Linked DNA regions of Homo sapiens. The protein of the gene in region 3 purifies or fractionates together with the protein of the main gene of each other region. This does not show direct contact. Each region holds a gene or a part of one and is shown on either strand. Other genes may lie near its edges. The genes, in order: CDC40, CCDC12 and SYF2.

Region 1 (3,653 bases), on a different chromosome or scaffold from region 3:
GTCCACCTGACAAGCATAGCCTGCTACCATATGGCCCTTAAAAATTTTTTTCTTATTTAATCTAAATCTGTTCTGTGCTCCAAAAATTAAGATTTGGTTGTCCATTGATTGGCATGCTAGCCATTTTCCTGTAAATTCAATAAATGAGGTATTTTAGAGGAAGACTAAAACAATTTTTAAAACTTTTTATTTTAAATATGTTCACTGTGATTAATATAAGTTTTGCTCCCAAATACTTTATAATACTAAAAAATAAATTTACTATACCACCTGTAAAATGTTATAAATATGTCACTGGCAAGAGGTATTAATATATAAACTAATGGCTTTTGCATATACGATCCTATATCATTGAGCACTCTCATATAAAAGTTTTTAAAAAAATAAGGAAATATAGAAATTCCAAGCTTAATGTTAAAGAAATAAGCTAAAAGTTGTGAAATGAAATTAATTTATAGTAAGTATAGACAACAGAACTATGGGAAATAGGAGAAAGAGACTTATCTGTGGTAATTACAGAATAAAGAAAGATTAAGGGGTGAGAAAGCCTAGGGTTATTAAATAAAACTATACAAAAAAAGATATATTAAAAATTATAGTAACTTTTTAAAAGGCTACAATGCTTTTCTCTACTTAGGATTCATCAAAGCCCCTAGAGCCTAAACTGCAGCGTCTATAGTCATGCACCACTTAACAATGTTTTGGTCAATGATGGACCGCACGTATGACAGTGGTCCCATAAGATTATAGTGCTAAATTTTAACTGTACCTTTTCTATGCTGAGATTTTACTGTACCTTTTCTATGTTTAGATACACAAATGCTTACCACTGACTACATTATTCAGAACAGCAACATGCCATACAGGGGTAAAGCCTAGGAGCAACAGGCTATACCATACAGCCTAGGGTAAGTAGACTATACCATCTAGGTTTGTGTAAGTACTCTGTGTGATGTTCACAAAATGACAAAATCACCTAACACTGCATTTCTCAGAAGTACCCTTGTTGTTAGGAATGCATGACTATACTTGCATCCTATATATAGTCATCCCTTGGTATCTGTTGGGAATTGGTTCCAGGATCTGCACCCCTACCCAATACCAAAATTCACAGATGCTCAAGTCCCTTATATAAAATGGCATAGTATTTGCATATAACCTACATATCTCCTGTATACATTAAATCACCTCTCGATTACTTATAATGCCTAATGCAACGTAAATGCTTTGTACCTAGTTGTTATGCTGTGTTGTTTTTAATTGTTGTATTGTTATTTTTTATTGTTTATTTTGTTGAATATTCTGGATTCGTGCTGGTTGAATCCCAGGATATGGTGCTCATGGATACAAAGGGCCAACTGTACATGTAAACATTACTTACTAAGGAAACAGACTTAAATAATGCCTGAGTGGGTAAATGGCCTTGTTCAAGATGGGCACAAAATCTGTAATAGGTGGTTTAAAAATACGCTACATGAAATATAGATGCACAGTGACGAAGTATATAATCTAGCAATGATCAAAAAAAGGTTCAGTTAGGTTTCTCTTCTCATAAAAATGATAGAGCATTTGACAACTATTACCATTTGCTTGTGTCAGAGGCCCTGATGGAACAGCAAATTCTTCCTTGCCCTACACTTGGAGTTAATTATGTGAATTGACAGTGGTTTCAATGACAAGGTCCCCCAAACATCAGAACTCCCACTTTAAGACTCTCATGTAAAGCTATAATTACATCAGTATATTGTCAGTATATCTGTAGCACAAATTATCTTGTACGTAAAAGACAATGGATTAAACAATATTAAATAGATTTATCTTCTTAATTTTTGCCTGAGAAAATCTTTTATAGTGAATTGCTAAAGTGTTCTCTCATTATGGAGAATCAGACCAAAACTTCCTATCCCCTGAAAGAGTTTACAGTAAATCACTATTACTATTTTTTTTTTTAGAGAGAAGGGTCTTGCTCTGTTGCCCAGGCTGGAGTACAGTCACATGATCATAGTCAATCTCCTGGCTCAACCAAACTGCCCATCTCAGCCTGACCAAGTAGCTAGGGCTACAAATGTGCACCACCATGCCAGCTGATTTTTAAAATTTTATTTTGTAGAGATGAGGTCTCTCTATGTTGCCCAGGCTAGTCTCAAACTCTTGGGTTCAAGTGATTCTTCTGCCTTGGCCAAATCATTATTAAATGATTTACTGAACGTGATTCTGTTTGGAAGGAGAATTAGAAAAGAAAACTCTGGCCGGGCATAGTGGCTTAGGCCTGTAATCCCAGCACCTTGGGAGGCTGAGGAGGGAAGATCACTTGAGCCCAGGAGTTTGAGACTAGCCTGGGCAACAAAGGGAGACCCTGTCTCGAAAAGAAGAAAAGAAAAGAAAAGAGGGGAGGGGAGAGGAGAGGAGGGGAGAGGAGGGGAAAAGAAAAAAGAAAAGAAAACTGATTGTTAAATAAAAATCTGATGTTCAATCAATGTTAGCTGTAAATCATTGTTTCTTTTATTTTTATTTAAAAAGAGACACAGAAAAGTAGGTGAGGTGACTTGCATATGAAAACCAGTAATTCTTTCTAATATTGTAAAGATTACCTTATACAAATAATGGCACAGTGACAAACTTCCCCAAGAAGGAAGGGGCCAAAGTTCTTTTGAATAAAGAAATCACACTGTATCTTAGAAGCTCATTTAAAAATACAATCTACATACTAACTCACCATTTGGAGACAAAGTCACTGCAGGCATTGAGTGCATACTGGGTTCTGCTATGTACTTGAAATCCACAGGGATATCCCTAAAAATTTTAAATAGCATATCAGAATAAGCAACTTTTAAAAAGTACCTTCAGAATTATCTCTGGAACAAAGGAATAATATGCAAATAAAAGCAAACTCTTGATATTATATATTTAATAAATCTTTCATGAAACTTTCTGGAAGAAGAAAAATCACAAGATGACACTGTACTGCTTATGGTAAATCCTGTACTTCATAAATCACTTTCCATGATCATTATAACAGTGGTGGTGATTTTGTTTTCTATTTCATTTAAACTTTGGCCTTTATGTTAAAAAATCTGTTACTGAAAGAAAGTTCTTTAATAATGTACCATGGTGATGGATACACTAAAATCTCAGAATTCACCACTATATAATTCATCCATGTAACCAAAACCCACTTTTACTCCAAAAGCTGTTGAAATAAAACCAAAAATTAAATTAAAAATGTACCATGGTAGGGTGAAGCAAGATGTCTGAGGTAAGCCTATGGGGAAGTGTTATTTACTGGCTAGCCTACCTTAACTTGAGGAGGTGAGAGTGTTAAACAGCCTGCAGCAATGCAGGTGGATGGCAGGCAAAGCTGTAGGGATCTGTGAGCTGATCTAGCCCATCCAGAAATGATGATAAATGATGATAAATAAATGCTTGGTACCTGGACTATCTTCAGTTTACATGTAAAGCATTTCAAATGTGTTTGGTGAAGGAGAAAAAACATAAAAAAAAAAAAAAAACCTCATGTGAGTGATGAAAGAATGAAAAAAAAATTAAAAAGTAGCCACCTAAATTTAGAACCATCAAAAGTTCTAAGTGCCTTTTCATTTTTAATATTCTCCATGCTAAAAATTCTTTTCTGAAAGGAGTTTTCGTCTTGTTGC
Region 2 (3,653 bases), on a different chromosome or scaffold from region 3:
ACTGACGCAGGGCGTGTGTGCACATGCACAAATTCGTGTGACCACACCTGGGGCCCAGGGCATGGACTGAGAGGCCCCAAGACAGAGCTGTCGTGGGTCTCCCTGCATGCCAGGGTTGGCACTCCAGAAGGTGACAATGCTCACTTCACTATGGCAGCGTCCTGCCTTTGACTCTCGCAGAGCAGTGTTCTAAGAGAGATCTGTGAGCTCCTTCCATTGGGAGCCTGCTCTGGTGGACACAGAATGCGCTGGAGCCTGCATATAAATTATAAGTAAAACAGCTACTTGAACTACCTTTCCTAGACATTTATTTATGCCATTGACAACTGCCTTCCTAAGAATGGTATCTGCTTTATGTGGAGACTGCAGGCATCAACCAGACCCTGCCATTCCTTGGCCACACAACCTCCGGGGAGCAGACTACCAAAACCAGGTCGGAGGCCTGGCCCAGAGAAAGGCTTCTGTCATGAGAACAGATCAACATGCCCCCCACCCCAACTCAGGGCAGCTCATCTCATGGCAACGAGGCAGCGAGAACAAAATAACTGACCAAGTGACAGCAGCTACACGAGAGAGGTCAACATGGAACGTGGTTCTTGGGCGATGGGTGAGAGGTTTCCTACTGAGAGATGGGCTGGGCAGAATTGGGTGATACAGCATAGGGGGAGAGAAGTGGGAAGGGCATTCCCGGTGGGAAGCAGAGCTTGAACAAAGGCAGGGTGTGGTCTGAAGAGCATGCAGGTGACTGGGGTTGGGGGAGGGGGTGACAATGATTGCCAGGTAAGACAGTCAAGGCAGGCAATGGCCGAACACAGAGGGCTCTGGCCGGTGTTCTTAAGCAATGGAGAAACCGAGGAGAGACTGGAGAGAGTTCACTGACCTCTGCTGGGGAAGGCAGGCCCTGGGGTGGACAGGCAGATGCTTGGTGATGGCCAAAGAGGGAAGGGAGAACAGAGTATAAATGCTTCACTGAGAAACAAGTCAGGATTCTCCAAATGGCTCCCAGGGCTGCTGGGACCTGGACGGGGCTTCCACAAGGGCCCTGCTGACACATGCAGCCCTCCCTGACTAAAGACTAGCCGATGAAGCAAGCCAGAGCCTGCAAATTCTAGCAAAAAATTCCTTCCCAACTCCCAACCAGCGGACACCCTGAAGGCTACTCCCTGCAGTGCCTACCTCAGGGGAAGGAGCGGCAGACACCTGCCCTGGGTAAGGGCAGAGAAGGAAAAGCAGAAAGGGCTCTTCTTTCCCCACACTGGGCTAGTGGGGCAAGACCCCCAGCCACAAAGACGACTCCTTTCCACAGGGGTTCTGTTAACCCGAACCACCTGGCAGAAGTAGGTGGGGACTACGGGAAAGTGTCCAGCCTTTGGGAGGAGTGCTTTGCAAATACCATGCCCTTTCTCGGCTCTCAAGCAAGGTCAAACAGCTGTCACCACCCTCCTGGAGCCCCAGAGACATTCAAGTGCCTCAGCAAAGGCCAAGTTATTCATTAATAAATGAGAAAACACCCAACTATCTAAATGACTTTTAAAAATGCCCAGCAATCTGGTGGGTGGGGGGCAGCACTAGCTCTGCAGACAGCATGAGGTTAAAAATGACCCCAGCCTGGGATGCTGTGCAAAGAGCAGGGGCTCAAAAAAGATAAAGATCCACATCTGTGGCAGGAGCAGGTGAACAAATGAACAGGCCACACAAGTGGGGGAGATAAGGTGTACCTCAGCCTTCCTGACAAAGAGTGATTCATAAATAGGACAATGGGCATTCACGGGAAGGAAAATCGCTTTTGGTGACACTGGCCTGAATCACAAGATAAGGCCCTTTGCTGCCCGGGATAGTGGAGGGAAGCGCAGACCACTTGAAGCTCACCCCTACCTGAGAGACTCAAAGAGCCTCAGACCTGGAGGGCTCGCAGGATCACCCATTCTAGGTCCTCAGTTTAAGCCATGGGAAAACCTGGGAAATGGCAGTCAGGGAAAAGGAAAAGATTTGTCCAAAGTCACAGAACCCATCAGCGGTAGCTGCAAGTCTGGATCCAGGTCGTCCTGATGCCTGGCCCTCAGTCTTGCCAAGGAGACGAGAGAGAGGCTATCAAGAGTGGAAGAGTGGCGCTGAGTTTCTAAAGAGCTCTGATTCTACCCGCCTCTCCTGCGCTCCCCACACAGTTCAGACCTGGTCCCATGTGCTCAGATGCGGCCACAGCCAGCCCAAGTCCAAGCCTAGGCCCTGCTGGACACTCAGTAGGAAAGCAGGCAAGGCCCTAGGTGCACAGCCTCCCCAGGAATTTAGAGACACTTCGCTCACCCTGAGACCTTTAAATCAGACTCAATGCCTCACCACCCCCACTCCCCACTCAATACCCTTCCCAAATCTTGCCATCTTCTCCCTCCTTCCCAATCCCTAGTCTCGTCTACCACCTCCTTAGCTCCCCACCACAACCAAGCCCCCAGCCATTCCCCTCCACCCCTGCCTGCCAGCCAGCCTTCCCCTCTACTCTGGAGAATACAGCTGCCTCCTGCATTTTTCCCTCTCTTTCTCCAACCTGTCTCCCCTAAGTCTCTCTTCAACTTATCAATCCACATTCCTGGCCTCCTCTTCAAAGATACTGGTCAGACCACACTGCACCTCCGCTCAAAGCTCTCACTGGGTCTCCACACCCCCAGGACAACAGCCATTCATCTCGACCTCACATCTGCTCTGTCCAGAACACTCTTACACCCCACATTTTGTCTCAAATCCTGAAATATCTACTCTGATAACCCCCAAGAAAACACACCATCTGGCCAGTCCTAAAGGCCAGGCCAAAGGCCACCTCCTCAAAGCAGCCTTCTAAGATTCCCAGGCAAAAGAATCCTCTGGGCCTACCCAGTGCATATCAGGGTCTGACCGTAGGCCCAGGGCACAGGCCTGTGGCCATTCCTATTCACATGTAGGCTTTACTACCCCTTCCCTTCAAGAACCTCTCAGCACGGGGCATCTCCTAGAGCACCTCAAGGCCTAGCCCAGAGCCTGGGCTAGACAACCTTCAGAAATGCTACCAATTTAACTGCTACCCTCTCCACCAACTCCAGAAGAGTAAACCTCAGGAACGCTGATGGCTGGAGGGCAGGAGAGTCATGGTCTGGGCTGGGGCCCTCCCCATAGCCTATCTGCCTATTAATGGAGGTACTCCCCCATTTCTCACCCCTGCCCACATCTCCACACCTAGACCTTGCACCCCTGCCCTCACCTCCTCCCAGAGCCTTCAGCAGGAAGAAGCCTTTGAGGCAGGATTTCAGGGGGTCTCAAATACAGCCCTGCTCAGGACAGAGTCTGACTGACCTGTTTCCTAATGTTTGAAATCCTTTTTATCAGGGACAAAACTGTTACAAATAAAATTAGAGCTGTGCAAAGTTGGTATTGTTTCTTCCTTAAATGTTCAACAAGACTTCAGTGAAGCAATCTTGGCCTGAAGTTTTATTTGGGAAAATATTTGTTATAGGACTGTATAGATTTTCTATTTCTTCTCCAGCCAGTGTTATTAATTTATGTCTTTCAAGATGTCTGTTTCACCTAAGTTATTGAATTTACTGGCACAAAGTGACTTATATTGTTCTCTTAATAGCCTAATGTCTGTAAGATCTGTAGTGATGTTCACTGATATTGATAATTTG
Region 3 (3,653 bases):
GGAGTTCAAGACCAGCCTGGCCAACATGGTGAAACCCCATCTCTACTAAAAATACAAAAAAATTAGCCAGGCGTGGTGGCGGGCACCTGTAGTCCCAGCTACTTGGCAGAAGAATCACTTGAACCCAGGAGGCGGAGGCTGCAGTGAGTCAAGATTGCACCACTGCACTCCAGCCTGGGCGACAGAGCGAGATTCTATCTCAAAAAAAAAATAAAAATAAAAATAAAAAATAAAAAATTACAGAATTGAAAGGAACCTAAGACATCATCTACGCCAACACCTTCACTGTACAGATCAAAGAGCCAACAGGCAGAGAGGCTCCAGGACTTATCAGAGGTCACAAAGTGCTAGGAACAGAGCTGGGATTAGAGCTCCATCCTGAGGTTATTTCCTTTTCCACTAAAACAAGCTGCCAAACTACAGCAGCCCACCACCTGTTTATGAAAAGAGGCTTCATTTATGAATTCTCTGCAGCTGCTTTTGCACTGCAGCAGCACAGCTGAATAGCTGTGACAGAGACTATATGGCCCACAAAGCTAAAATATTTACTATCTGGTCCTTCACAGAAAAAGTTCACCAACCCCAGCACTAAAGCATTCTGCCTCCTAAAATAATATCTAAGTAACTACGACAATCAGGGTGTTAACCAATCAACAACCAGTCTTAGAATGCCCAGTTAAGAACAAAACAAAAAACATGTGATTAATTTAATAGCTGTGAAGTAAGCAATAAACAGTGCTGTCAAAACAGAGACTAGGCCTGGCACAGTGGCTCACACCTGTAATCTCAACCATGTGGGAGGCCAAGGATGGAGGATCACTTGAGGCCAGGAGTTTGAGACAGCCTGAGCAACACAGTGAGACCCCGTCTCCACAAAAAAATTAATTAGCCAGGAATCGTGGCACATGTCTGTAATCCTAGCTACTGGGGAGGCTGATGTGGGAGGATCCCTTGAGGCCACAAGTTTGAGGTTACAGTGAGTTATGACAGTGTCAATGCACTCCAGCTTAAGCAACAGAGCGAGACACCGTCTCTTAAAAAAAAAAAAAGGAAGGGCCGGGCGCAGTAGCTCACGCCTGTAATCCCAGCACTTTGGGAGGCTGAGGTGGACGGATCACTTGAGGTCAGGAGTTCAAGACCAGCCTGGCCAACGTGGTGAAACCCCATCTCAGCTAAAACTACAAAAATTAGTTGGGCGTGGTGGCGGGCGCCTGTAATCCCAGCTACTCAGGAGGCTGAGGCAGAAGAATTGCTTGAACCCAGGTGGCGGAGGTTGCAGTGAGCTGAGACCGCACCATTCACTGCACTCCAGCCTGGGTGAGAAAGCAAGACTCCATCTCAAAGGAAAAAAATATCCAGAAAAAACAGAGACCATCCTTAGACAACTATTAATAACCCATACCTTAGCATTAAAGCATGTTTCTATTTATGTACATGTATACACACACACACACACAAATACATCCACATCACCTCAGGTTGAAAAAGGACTTACTGTTTTTCTCTCAGTCTCTCATATGTTTCCATGTCAGGTTTGATCTGCTTGGTCAACCGATGATACTGGCGTAACTGGGCAGCAGCATAATCTAAAAATATAAAATGAGAATCAGCGATAATATATTTCCTTGTTTGGACCTTCCTATTGAGAGAAAAATCTAAATTATCACAGGTGAGTATCTTTTATCCAAAACGCTTGGAATCGGAAGTGTTTCTGATTTTTTTCAGATTTTGGAATATCTTTATTATACTTAAATTCAAAATCTGAAATGCTCCAATCAGCATTTCCTTTGAGCATCATAGCACCATGTTGGCATTCAAACAGTTTTGGATTTTGCAACATTTGGGATTTCAGATTTTCATACTAGGGATACTCAATCTGTGTGAAGTAATATATGCCCATAACACTATTCTAAGCATAGCTTCTATCCTGAAGATGCTGACAAACAGACTTTGATAAATTTTATCATCAAGTATTTAAAAACCTGGCTAACTGAAGTACAGCCTTTTTTTTTAACTTCTCTCCTAAGAGACATATTTGTACTTTTCTTGGTCTTAAGCCTCATCAAGAATATCCCACGAAGCACAAGAGGCACATCCTTTCTTGAAACCAGAAACAATGAAGGAAATGACTAACAGCCCAGTCAATAAGGTTCAATAAAGGTCAATCTGACCTGAAAATCCCAGATCAGGGTTTTTCCTCTTCTTTTTCCTCTCCCATCTTTCTGCATCTTCTGCACTGATCTCCAGCAACTTCACTTTCTCATAGTCTTCTCCTCTTGCCGCACATTCCTAAAAAGAAGAAAAAAGCTGACACCTACAATTATGATACATGCAATAATTTGATCTACTTTACATCAAGAAAGATCCAATAAATATCAACCAATACTTTAATAGTATTTTTTTAGTTGGAGTTTCACTCACTCTGTCACGCAGGCTGGAGTGCAGTGGCGCGATCTCAGCTCACTGCAACCTCCACCTCCCAGGTTCAAGGGATTCTCATCTCTTAGCCTCCCAAGTAGCTGGGACTACAGGCACATGCCACCATGCCCGGCTAATTTTTGTATTTTTAGTAGAGATGGGGTTTCACCATGTTGGCCATGCTGGTCTCAAATTCCTGACCTCAAATGATCTGCCAGCCTCGGCCTCCCAAAAGTGCTGGGATTACAGGCATGAGCCACTGCACCCGGCCACTTTAATAGCATTTAAAGGAAATTTGGGAATATACTATGGTATATAAGTGAGCACATGATACTTATTGAGTGTTTATCAGGTGTCAGACCTTGTTTTAAATGTTTTACATGCATTAACTCACTTAATTCATAATGAACTCAAATAATTATTGTTACAGTCCCTGTTTTATTGATGAGAAAACAGAGGTACAGAGAAGTTAAATAAACTCACCCAACGTGTTGCAGTTGGTACTGAGCAGAGCCAGAATTTCAATTCTGGCAGCTTGGCCTAAGAGCCAGTGTATACAACCACCATGTTGTAGTGTCTTGATACAACAGAATGATTGACTAAATCACTTATGAAGATAGAATAGTTCCTAACCTTTTTCTTTTCCTCTTCCTTTAGTTCCCACTCCAAACGAGCTTTTTTGGCTTCCCAATTTGCAGGTAATTTTAGTCTTTTATCTTCTTCCACAACTTCCTGGTGATTTAATTTACGAGCTTCATTCTAAAACCGTAACACAAGAAGTCTGTCAGCTAAAACATGAAAATAAATCCAGATACACCTTGCCTTCTTTGAGGAGGGTCAGGCAGGACATATTAATAAGCTGACCCCATTTTATCCTAAAAGCAATAGAGAGCCATCACAGGATTTTAAGCCAGGGAATAGCCTAATAGGGTCTACGTTTTTATGCAGTCAAGAAAAATGTGTTGAGTTGCACTGGTTTGCTGTTCCAGAGCCCTGGAGGTTAAAATCAGCTTTGCCTCTATTGAGTTGTGTGGTCCCTTTTTATTGGATCAGAACAAGGTTTTGCAGTATTGGAGACCATACTATAGTGGCACTTAAGTAGACTTTATTTGGCATTACTATTAAATTGGCCAGGTGCAGTGGATCACGCTTGTAATCCTAGCACTTTGGGAGGCTGAGGCAGGTGGATCACCTGAGGTCAGAAGTTCAAGACCAGGCTGGCCAACATGGTGAAA

Evidence for each region.
Region 1: the proteins of SYF2 (region 3) and CDC40 purify together in Homo sapiens (affinity purification with mass spectrometry; 2 studies listed by BioGRID and IntAct, with this or other methods). This does not show direct contact.
Region 2: the proteins of SYF2 (region 3) and CCDC12 purify together in Homo sapiens (co-immunoprecipitation; 3 studies listed by BioGRID and IntAct, with this or other methods). This does not show direct contact.

What each region holds. Positions count from the first base shown.
Region 1 is NC_000006.12:110,225,307-110,228,959, reverse strand, and holds part of CDC40 (pre-mRNA-processing factor 17), read right to left. Parts: intron 2,794-3,653; coding exon 2,717-2,793; intron 129-2,716; coding exon 1-128. UniProt on the Homo sapiens protein: Required for pre-mRNA splicing as component of the activated spliceosome. Plays an important role in embryonic brain development; this function does not require proline isomerization.
Region 2 is NC_000003.12:46,942,210-46,945,862, forward strand, and holds part of CCDC12 (coiled-coil domain-containing protein 12), read right to left. Parts: intron 1-3,653.
Region 3 is NC_000001.11:25,225,947-25,229,599, forward strand, and holds part of SYF2 (pre-mRNA-splicing factor SYF2), read right to left. Parts: intron 3,178-3,653; coding exon 3,052-3,177; intron 2,290-3,051; coding exon 2,172-2,289; intron 1,587-2,171; coding exon 1,496-1,586; intron 1-1,495. UniProt on the Homo sapiens protein: Involved in pre-mRNA splicing as component of the spliceosome.